Linked DNA regions of Homo sapiens: region 2 is linked to region 1. Evidence: fine-mapped expression QTL. A gene starts in region 1. The other region holds a variant in brackets. All regions are shown on one strand. Distances are between the middles of the regions.

What was found. PIP is the estimated chance that this variant, and not a neighbour inherited with it, causes the effect.
Region 2: its variant is fine-mapped to the expression of ZNF536 in lung (TOPMed, PIP 0.97).

What each region holds. Positions count from the first base shown.
Region 1 is chr19:30,369,272-30,374,653 of GRCh38, forward strand. It overlaps ZNF536 (zinc finger protein 536), which reads left to right and starts at 3,113. Exons shown (of 5, transcript NM_014717.3): 1 at 3,113-3,285. RefSeq lists an enhancer at 4,157-4,658.
Region 2 is chr19:30,476,775-30,482,156 of GRCh38, forward strand. The region is part of intron 2 of ZNF536 (zinc finger protein 536); the gene reads left to right. Among named protein-coding and RNA genes, the nearest start is that of ZNF536, 110 kb to the left of the region's middle. The variant G/C (reference allele first, on the strand shown) is at 2,676.

The sequences.
Region 1 (5,382 bases):
GGATTAAGATTGTTAAAAATATGTCCAAATGGTGGAAACATGTATTTGGTTTGATGATACTATTTCTGCCCACTCAAGGATTTTGATCTCTTATTTATAAATGTAACACTTTTCTGAAAACCAGAATGGTAGCACAGGGCTCGGATTTTCTTTTTGCAAATGAAACATGAATGCATTAAATGTGGAGGATCACACTGAAGCTGTGTCAATTGAGTCCGACCCGTCTGCGATTGTGCAGTCTAGATGTTGCTGTCACTGTCCCGGGGTGTGGTTTTTGACTGGCTGTTGCTTTGACCTGGCAAATAAAAATTGTAAAGGAAAAGACAAAATTCTTCCACAAATTGCAAAGGGATGAATTATGACATTATTTTCTCCCTGTACCATAAGATAAGCAGGTTCTCCTCTGAAAATACATGTGTGCATAATTGAATATTGTTAACCTGGGTCTGTTCTGTAATTCTTGAGCAATTTTTTTTTAGAAGGAAACCAACTCAGGAGTTTCTTCAGTGGCTGCAATCAGAATAAAGTGTTTCCACTTTTAGATTAAGAGAAAAAAAAACAGTAATAGGCTGGGCTGTTATTATGGAAAGTTTATTATTATTGGTACATAAGCTAGCTGGGGGTTTAAGCACAGAGCAGTTGGATAATTTAGCTAGCTCCTGGATCCAATTAAAAAAAATATATGTTGTGTCCACAGTGGGGGGATGGCCATCGCTGAGAAAGCACTCTAACGTGGATGGTGACACACCTGTGGCATTCTCTTGGTTATACGCAGTTTGGGATGCAGAATGCTGTAAATCCTCTCATTACTGCCTTAGAGAAGGCAGACACTTCAAACAGTTCTCCATTTATCTGAGATTACCAGTTAAACTCGTTAAAAAGCAACTATGGCTTGTTCACTCAATTGGCTGTTGGGAAGATTTCTGTGTTCTGTAGCAATGGCGACAGCGTGGCTTTGATTAGTGGAGTGCTATACTTTTTAGGGGAGACCTTTTCTAACTTAATTTATGACTCTGGTTGAATGGCGTCTGTGCTGGGGTATTACGTATTTCCCCAACTATTGTACCTGATGTCAATAAAGGTGCATTTAGGGAAATTTGAACTAAAACCCCAGGGTGTTTTTGTTCTTTGGGGAACCAATGCGCCATAAACATTTTGAACTTGAGCCAACAACCTCCCCTGACCATGATTGCAAATTACTGTAGAATGTATGGATTGCTGGCGGAACACTATTTGAGGAAACCTGTATTTTATAGAATGTCACTTTTATGCACAATCCAGGCAAAACAGAGGGGAAAAAAACTAATTTAAACAGCAGACAGTGTTCTCTTGAATGAAGATTATGACAAAGAATGTTATAAAAATCAAGCTCTAAATATGGCTTTTTATTTAATCATTATTACATCAATCATCAATATCAATACTTAACAGCAAGCTGATAATGTAGCCAGTAGGTGAAACAGCTATTAAAAAGTGTAAAAAAATGATTAATCAGGTACGGGGGATATTAATGCCCTCCAATTATTAAATGATAAGTACGTATTTTTGGAAGTGTTTGTTTTTAATAATCAACTGTAATATTAGTTTGCAAAAACGTAATTGCTTCTTAATTTTGCATTTTAGCTTCTTTGTGCTGGGTACAAAGGTAGTATGTTTCTGTAGTTATTGTTTGCAGCACTCCGTGTAAAAAATCACGTTCATTTCAAGAAGCTGTTATGGTATTGATTGTGGTAAAGACTTCCATTAACTGACCAATCTAAATCTCATAAGTGATGTCAGGATAGTTATGCATTTGCTTGGTTCAAGTATTCAGCCATTATGTTAGAATGCAGGCAGTGTCTGAATATGGCTGTTAAATTATTTCTAAATACCGAACCAGAACAGCTTAACAGTTCTGCAGTTTGAGACTGACACAAAAATGACAATCTGCCACCTCTTTGTTTTTTAAATATTAACGCTGTATTGGGATAGTATTTTTGGAGTAAAAACCTGTGGCACGAGAGGATAAGTGACATAAACAAAGGCAGCTGGGCTTCATGAAATAATGGAACAATAAGGCCTTTGCAGCCGCTCTCATCACTCCAGTATGTTAATTAGCATTCTGTTGTGGCCGCAACACTGAAAACATGTAATCTGTATTGGTGTACAGTACAGCTGTGAACACACATTCTTTTTTGTGAGTCCCTGGAGTTAGCCTTGCCATTGGCATATGCGTTTGGGCCAAAAGTCAAGCCATCACCACTAAAATAGCACACCATAGCAGCAAAATGTCATTTGTCTTTTCTTGTTTTTTTTTTTTTGTTTTTTTTTTCTCTCCCCTCAATGCCACATGCTATCCAGTGATGTAATCTAGTATCACTGCATCTGCCTCCCTGCTGTATTTTTGCAGGAGGGTATCTGGATATCTGTAGGGGAAAGGAGGGGGCATTGCCAGCCAGCAGGAGATGGAAAAGGCAGCGGCCCCAAAAGAGTCAAATTAGAAAATAAATTATTTCTTTTTGCATTATATGTTTAAATGCATATATAGAGAATATATATATATATATGCATATATATGTGTGTGTGTATATATATAAAGAGAGAATATATATACATTGAAGAATCTATGCATTTAATATCTGCCACCTTTTTGCATAGATTCTTCCTTAAGTGTCATGAAACTAGAATCCGCTGCTTGTTTTCGTAAGGTAAAAGAAGGGCAGTTAATTTCAGCACCAAGGCTTGGAGGAAATGAGACCTAAGAAAAAAGAATCAGAGTAAAATTTACCCTTATTTATCATTTCTATTTAGAACTGGGTTGACAGTCTTTCATGCATGTACTTAGGATGGGATTGGCTCTTCCCATTTCAGAGCTGACAAAACTGAGGCTGAGGCATGGTCCAAAGATGGGCCCTAATTGCAGGGCCTTTCTGGCCTCTGTACAGAGAGAGTGAAAACAATTGGTCATTTTGAGGGAAAGGGGTTAGCACCAGTGAGCAGAGGCAGTTAGTAGCTGGGAGCAGTGACTCCAGCCTTCAGAGGCAGGACTCAGAAAGGCCTCTCTTGTGTGATTTTGCTGCTCACACGTGGCCTGCTGGGAGCCGCCCCTGGTACTGCCGGGACACGGCCCTGGGATTTTGCTGAGGCCAGCTTTGGAACAGGGGAGGTGAGTCTGGAGAAGAGAGTTTCCACGTTGTCATCATAGGATCTGGACTCAAGTGACCAAAACCTTGCTTGGATTTTTACCTGATGAAGTTTGTCTTGAAAAGTGAAAATGGTTCCATTTCCATTTTCCCTGTTCTCAAGGTAATTCAGCTTTCTTTGTGTGTGAGTGTGTGAGTGTGTGCAAGTGTGTGTGCGTGCAGTCTCCCCAGCATAGAACACCCACACATGCACCCACCCACATGCAGACACGCACATACTCATGCATGGATTCTTGTTCACGAAGTACACACCCTTTTGCAAAATAATTTTTGAATAAAAAATTATAGCCCTTTAAATTTATTATAATTTAGAAAGGGACCATCCGATGGTTAAAACTTTTCCTATAATTCCTACATTAATTCTCTCCATCACCCGCCCCCCCCATCTAATCTGACTGTACCAAAAGATTTGAAAACAAAGCAAAAACACCAACCAACCAAACAAAACAACCCACCTGCTTCTAAAGTAACTTTCAGACTCCCTGGGCAAAGATTCTTGTCTCTTTCTGAAAGATGAGCATGAATTCTGAGCTCCAAATTTTGCTTTTAATCTGTCTCCAACCTAATTGAAAAATTACCATACCACACAAAGAAAACTCCGCATCGGGATCACCATGCTGATCCAATTGGGTTCTGCTTTTTGACGTTAGAGAAATCAAATTGTCTGGCGATTTGGTGACATGCTTGAATGTCCACCTGGGAGAAGACTAGGTTAAAAGTTAATAGCACTTGTGCTTTTCTTCCCCCCGACCTTTTTTTAAACTCCAGTAGAACGGAACTCTTCCCCACTGGCCAGGCCCTCATCCTGAATCCCTTGTCCAGCCTGGAGGTCTTCTGAGAGTTCTCAGTTGGCACCTTTCCCCTGACTTGTCCCTGTGAGGTAAGGCAGGGCTGACACTGAGATTTTAGTTCTGTTGTTCTTTTTTTTTTCCTAGAAATTCACACCCCCCACCCCTTGGTTAATGGCTCTTTAAATATTGAAATGCCTGGAAAAACAAAACAAAATAAAATAAAATGCAGCCTGTCAAAGAAATAAGAACAACAACAACAAAAATGTTGGTATCTTTTAGAATGTGTCTTCCTAGTGGTAAAAGTATATAATTAATAGGAGAATTTTCCTCCAGATGTGGCTATACTATAATAGAGCCTTATAAATGCTACAGAAAGAAAAATTGCTTGGAACGAAGGCGTCCTCAATGAGAGCACACCTGGGTCTGACAAAGATTGCATTTAGGGACTGCTGTGCTATCACAACGCAGAGAAAGACCAAGTCTCTGGGAGCAGCTGGAGAGAAAGCCCCGGCAAATCTGCATGCAAATAGCAGCACATTGTTAACTTAATCAGATGCCGAGGAAAGATGTGCCAGAATTCCAGGATGATCTACACACACGGAGGAGGAGCGGCCTGAGCTGCAGTGGGAGCCGGGGCCAAGGTGGGCCTCAGCAAGGTGCACGCGGCCCGGCCCCAGCCCCAGGGCCGCAGCCCACCCGCCGCCCGCCTGTTTTCCGGGCCTGCAGTCAATTCACCACATAATGCCCGATTCGCTCTTTGCAAAGATAGAAACGATAGAGCGTATTTCAATGGGATGGAAGCTTTATTATTATTATTTTTTAATGGTGATATAGGTATGGGCATTATTTCGCCTGAGTCCGTAACTCCAATTAAATAATATTTCTGCTTAAATATCCGGGTGCATGAAGATAAGAAATATTGCCCTGGAGTGTATAAAGAAAGAGTTTTTTTTTCAATAAGAAAAGTAGTTCTCTATAGGTTGAAGTGCTGGGTATAAATTGCACCTTAAGAAGAAGTGGAAGACACCTGTTATTTATATTTTATATTAATATTAATGGAAATATATATATCTTAAATCTCCATCTTTTAGTCTAGCACCGTAAAAAATATAAAGTAATACTATTTAATCACCCACAGCTTAATAGTGCCTTAGTTGTTTACTGCCATTGCACTAATTGCTCTGTACTAATGTGTTTTTCTGTGATATCCAGTAGTGCTAAGAGAACAGAGATCCATAACCAATTAAATATAGTGTTTTTTTTTAATGTTAAAAATATATCTGGTGAGGCTAGAAAAGGAATAGAAACCGCCCTGAAGAAAGGCGCCTTGGCACCGCCTCGGTGCCCACCAGAAGGTGCCCGGATTGCCTCTTTTGCGCAAAGACAAAGGGGGTAATTTTTTGGCAAGA
Region 2 (5,382 bases), 110 kb after region 1:
GAGGCCCTAGTGGCTCCCCATGTGATTTGCGAACTTCTCCGGTCTCACTGGGCCTGCCTGCCTCTTGGACTCCAGGGCCTGTGGCTCTGTGGCACCCACTACTCTCCTGCTCTTTCTGTCACTCCTCAGAATGCTCCAGTGTGGTCCTGCCTTGGGGCCTTTGCACTTCCTATACTTGCTGGGTTTTTTTTTTTAATAGAGATGGGGTCTTGCTATGTTGTCCAGGCTGTACTGAAACTCCTGGCCTCAAATGATCCTTCTGCCTTGGCCTCCCAAACTACTGGGATTACAGGCATGAGCCATGGTAACTAGCCTATATTTTCTTTGTTAAGGTCCACTTGTCTTTACTTTTCCCTGACCACCCATCCAATGTCAAAGCTCATCTTGGTTGTGCCCTTATTCTGTCTGTCCCGAATCATGACATCACCCTTATGTATTTAACTATTTGGTATTCTTTTATTTCCATTGTACTGACACGTTCTCCATCTCCCCACTAGAATGCAGGTTCTATGAGGGCAGGAATGGTGTCTGTTTTGTCCAGTTAGGTAGCCCAGGGCCTAGAGTAGCTCATGATACAGGAATGATATACATTCTTCATGATATTCATACACAGCAGTAAGTACTGATGGACCCAGTGTGTTGAATGAATTTCTGCGGAGTCGTATGACATGCATGCATTTTATGAAACAGCAACCTCCCAAGACATGAAAAAAATATGCTTGAGGTTTCTTTCAAATGAATCTCCCTTTAAGCAGAAATTTCTGCTTTGTGGCGTGAAGAAAGCAGAGTATTCCAGCAGTGGTTGGTTCCTTCTACTTTTTAGACAACCCAGTAATTTGTTTGGAGTGTTGTTGGGTCAGGGGGTTCTCACTGACAGGGGCTGTGTCTGTCCCCTCTGGAAACTGAAATCTCCTCCACTGTGCTTTGCTGAAGACAGCAGTGGCTGGGCACAATGATGGCAAACTCTTGAGCTTATCAGAAGAATAAAAGGACTTAAGTGAAGTGGAGATTTCTTGGTAGTTATCACCTTCTAGAATAAAAAGAAAACCTGATTCTTTCCTTCATCTCAGGGGATCCTCTATTGTTATAAGTGACCTCGGTGAGGGAAGAGAGTTTTCTTACTCTACAGAAATAAAAATCTGTCTGCTTTCTCTAGCACTGAAGAAAAATAGTCCTTTTTTCCTTTTTCTTTTTAGAAAAGCACCTTGCAGCTTCTGATGATTGAGGACGGGGTGGGATCCTCCATTGCCCAACCCCTTAGCTCCACCACTCTGCAGACCTCGGCGTCCTTGAAGGAGCTCGGGAACAGAGATCAGCATGTGTGGGTCAGGCTGCTGATGGCTCACATTTAAGAAAGATGGTTCATGGATAATCCTTGGTGTTTTTTTTTTTTTTTTTCCAGGATAAAGTTTTATGTTTGACCCTGAGAACCAGATATTAAGAAATATATGCTATGAAGTCATTTTGGCTGATTTAATCTAAACTTCCTGTATGCTCTTAGGCAGAGGTTTCAAGGTTGGGAGGGTCTTACGATCTAACTCTGCCCCACGCGGGGTTGAGGAATGCTGTGGGGCTCCGCCAGCTTCTATTTGTATAAGTCCGGGGTAGGGGGCTTCCTGCTGTCTCTTGAGGGGGCCCATTCAGAGCCTGAGGAGCTCTGATCTTAGAAAGCCTTTCAGATGGGGGGATCCTAGTGAAGCTCATGGGTTTTGGGCTCAGTCAGGCATGGTCTGAGTCTCAGCTCTGTACACATAAACTGCTGGATCCCCAGCCAAGTCTGATCCCTTATGTGTATACCGGGGAATAATAGTACTTACCTTAGATGACTATTGTGAGAATTAAATGATGATTATCTTCCTTCTAAACAACAGCAGAGCACATAGCAGGCACTCAGTAAATGCTCTCTCTCTTTTTAATATTGCCCTGAAATGTGCATGGTCCCAGGATTCCTTGGGGTCCTGTAAGTCGAACTGGATTCTCCCAAGGCCAAGGGACAAAATGTGGTATAGCTTCGAGTCTTGAGCCTTGTCTGCTTTTCTTATTCTGTGCCCATCTGAACCAATGCACTTAGTGCACAGGACCTGCTGGGTTGACCAACGATGCATCATCTGTGTAGGCTCAGAGGGGCTCCCTCTCCTTTTGGAAACTCATCCTTCCGAGGCCATTTTTGCCTGTCTGGGGACCACGGATTCTCTGGTTCCCACTGAGTTACTCATCACTGTCCAATCCCTCAAGTCCTTTCTCAGAGGCCTGGTGAAGCCCTGCCCTCTCCCCAGTCCTGCATTGCCACTCTGGGATTGTGTATCCCATATCAGTTAGGACAACACTGACCGCTCTTATAAATACACCCTAACATCTCAGTATCAAGACACCACAGTTTACTTTTCTCTCTCTCATCCGGAGCTCAATCGGTGTTGGGCACAAGCAGCTTTTATTTAGGGACCAGGCCAGTGGAAGCCTCATCATTTTCAGTATACAGTTTCCTGGGTCACCCAGGACATTGAGATCCAGCTGTCAGGAAAAGAGAGCACCATGAGAATGGAGCAAGAGACTCTTCTAAGAAGTAGCAGCCTTCATTTTGTCCAAATTCCACCGGCTGAAAGTCAGTCACGTGGCCCCAGCTAAATCAGATAAGCCTGGAAAATATCTGCGGTTGGGAAACTGCTTCCAGCAAC[G/C]ACCCTAGGTCGTGGAAGGAGACAGGAATTGCTAGTTGGCTGCTGTTTCGACTACAGACCAGATGTGGAAAAGGTCAACAACTGTTTGTTTAATTGCATCACTCATTTTCCCCTTGGCCTGGTGGGTCAGGGTGCTGTGAGGGATTCCTTCATTCAGGGGCCCTCACGCACACCCCACTTCCCCAGCACTGGCCACCTGCGCTTGTTCCATTCATGCCTGTTGGGTTTTTGTCCCTGTCACTGATAAAAAGCAGTCCACGAGGCAGCCTCGGGACATGTGCCCTGCCACATCCCAGGGTGAGAGTCCCTCCCTTCCTTGTGACCTCAGCACTTGTTTCTGTACCCTTTGGGTATGGCTGGTTAACCAGCCACTGATCCACTTCTTTGCCTTGCTTCAGTTTCACATTTCTCTTTTTTATCTCCGTGGAAATCAAAATGCCCTGCTGAGATGCAGACACCTGATGTCTAATGCAGGTCTCGGTCCCCAGCCTTCAGGGCTGGTTCCAAGGGAGCCCGCGCTGGGCTCTGGGGATTGCTGTTCCCCCTTCTAGGCTTGCCTCAACTTTTGTGAAAAAGTAAGACCCATGCTGAAGTCAGTCTCAGGATCGATTGTCCATGACAATTAGCTTTCCCTTTCTCCACAGTTCCTCAGATATCACAGCAGCAGGTTTCAGCACTGCTTTCCCAAGCTCTCCCGGTTCCATGGTGCCAATTTCACGGGAGTGTGGAGATGAGGATTCTGCTGGAGCAGACATGTTCTTCCTGACAGTCTTTGTCATCCATCTCAGGCTCCCGTGGGTCAACAGGTCTCTCTTCCTTCCCCGGGACCTCTCCTTGCAGGGCAGACAGAACAATCCCTTCTCCTCTTCTCCTTCCCCAACGTGATGTCATTGCTTCCTGCACCAAACTATAGTTCCTTTCTCAGTCTGTTTGTTTTGCTCTGAATTGAACTTTTAAAAAGGGTTTTTTACCATCATTCTCAGCAAACTAATACAGGAACAGAAAACCAAACACCGGATGTTCTCACTCATAAGTGGGAGTTGAACAATGAGAACACATGGACACAGGGAGGGGAACATCACACACCGGGGCCTGTCGTGGGGTAGGGGGCAAGGGGAGGGAGAGCGTTAGGACAAATACCTAATGCATGCAGGGCTTAAAACCTAGATGACGGATTGATAGGTGCAGCAAACCACCATGGCACATGTATACCTATGTAACAAACCTGCACGTTCTGCACATGTATCCCAGAACTTAAAGTAAAATAAAAATAAATAAATAAATAAATAATAAATGGCTTTTTAGCCTGGGCACAGTGGCTCATGCCTGTAATCCCACCACTTTGGGAGGCCGAGGCAGGCAGATCACCTAAGGTCAGAAGTTCAAGACCAGCCTGGCCAACATGGCGAAACACCATCTCTACCAAAACTACAAAAATTAGCTGGGCATGGTGGATGCGGCTGTAATTCCAGATACTTGGGAGGCTGAGGCAGGAGAGTCGCCCGGGAGGCGGAGGCTGCAGTGAGCCGAGTTCATGTCACTGGACTCCAGCCTGGGCAACAGAGTTAGACCCTGTCTCAAAAAAAAAAAAAAAAGGGTGGGTTGGGGGGCTTTTTAGCTGCCCTTAATACTATATTTTTTCTTTCCTTGGCTTTCATTAAAGATAAGATCATTTCAAGTCCCAGTCACTTATGTCTGAGGTTCCCTAAGAACATGTTCCTTCTTGTTTCCATGTTTTATTCAAATCATCAATCAATTAATCTATTCACTTAACACATCTATGCATATGTGCATGTGTGTGTATACATGTACTTGTATGTACATACATGCGCATGAGTATGCTAGATGCCCACTATCGTCTTTTCAAATCTCATCTCTCTGGGGGAGTCACACTGGTTTTTCTGGACCCAGGCTTCTTCCCTGTCACTGGGATCTCTCTGGTTGCACAGTCGGCATTATGACACGTTTGAGAGCATCCTCATCTTTTTCTGGGTCATTTGCTTGACCAGCCTCTCGTGTCCTGGAATCCTACCTCTCTTTTCTGCAAGTATTTTGAACCCTGGTATGTTAAAATTTAGGATACACATTGGTTCGTGATGAATTACAAACATTTATTGAGTTTTTAAAAAATGCCAGGCAGTGTGCTAACTTATTAAATGGATTTAATCCTTGTAACAACTTTTTAGAATTGAGTTCTTTTTAAAAATTTTGTTGATTGATTTATTTTCATTTTTTATTTCTATAGTTTTTGGGGAACGGGTGGCTTTTGGTAACATGGGTAAGTTGTTTAGTGGTGATTTCTGAAATTGTGGTGCACCCATCACCCCAGCAGTGTACACTGTATCCAATATGTAGTCTTTTATCCCTCACCCCTCCCGCCCTCACCACCTCCCCAAAGTCCATCGTATCATTCTTACACCTTTGCCTCCTCATAACTTAGCTCCCACTGATAAGTGACAATATACGATATTTGGTTTTCCATTCCTGAGTTACTTCCCATAGAATAATGGCCTCCAACTTCATCCAAGTTGTTGCAAAAGACATTTGTTCCTTTTGATGACTGAGTAGTATTCCATGGTGTATATGTACCACATTACCTTTATACTTTCGTTGATCAGTGGGTACTTAGGTTGATTCCATATCTTTGCAATTGCAAATTGTGCTGCTATAAATGTGTGTGAATGTGTGTGTGTGTGTGTATTGTGTG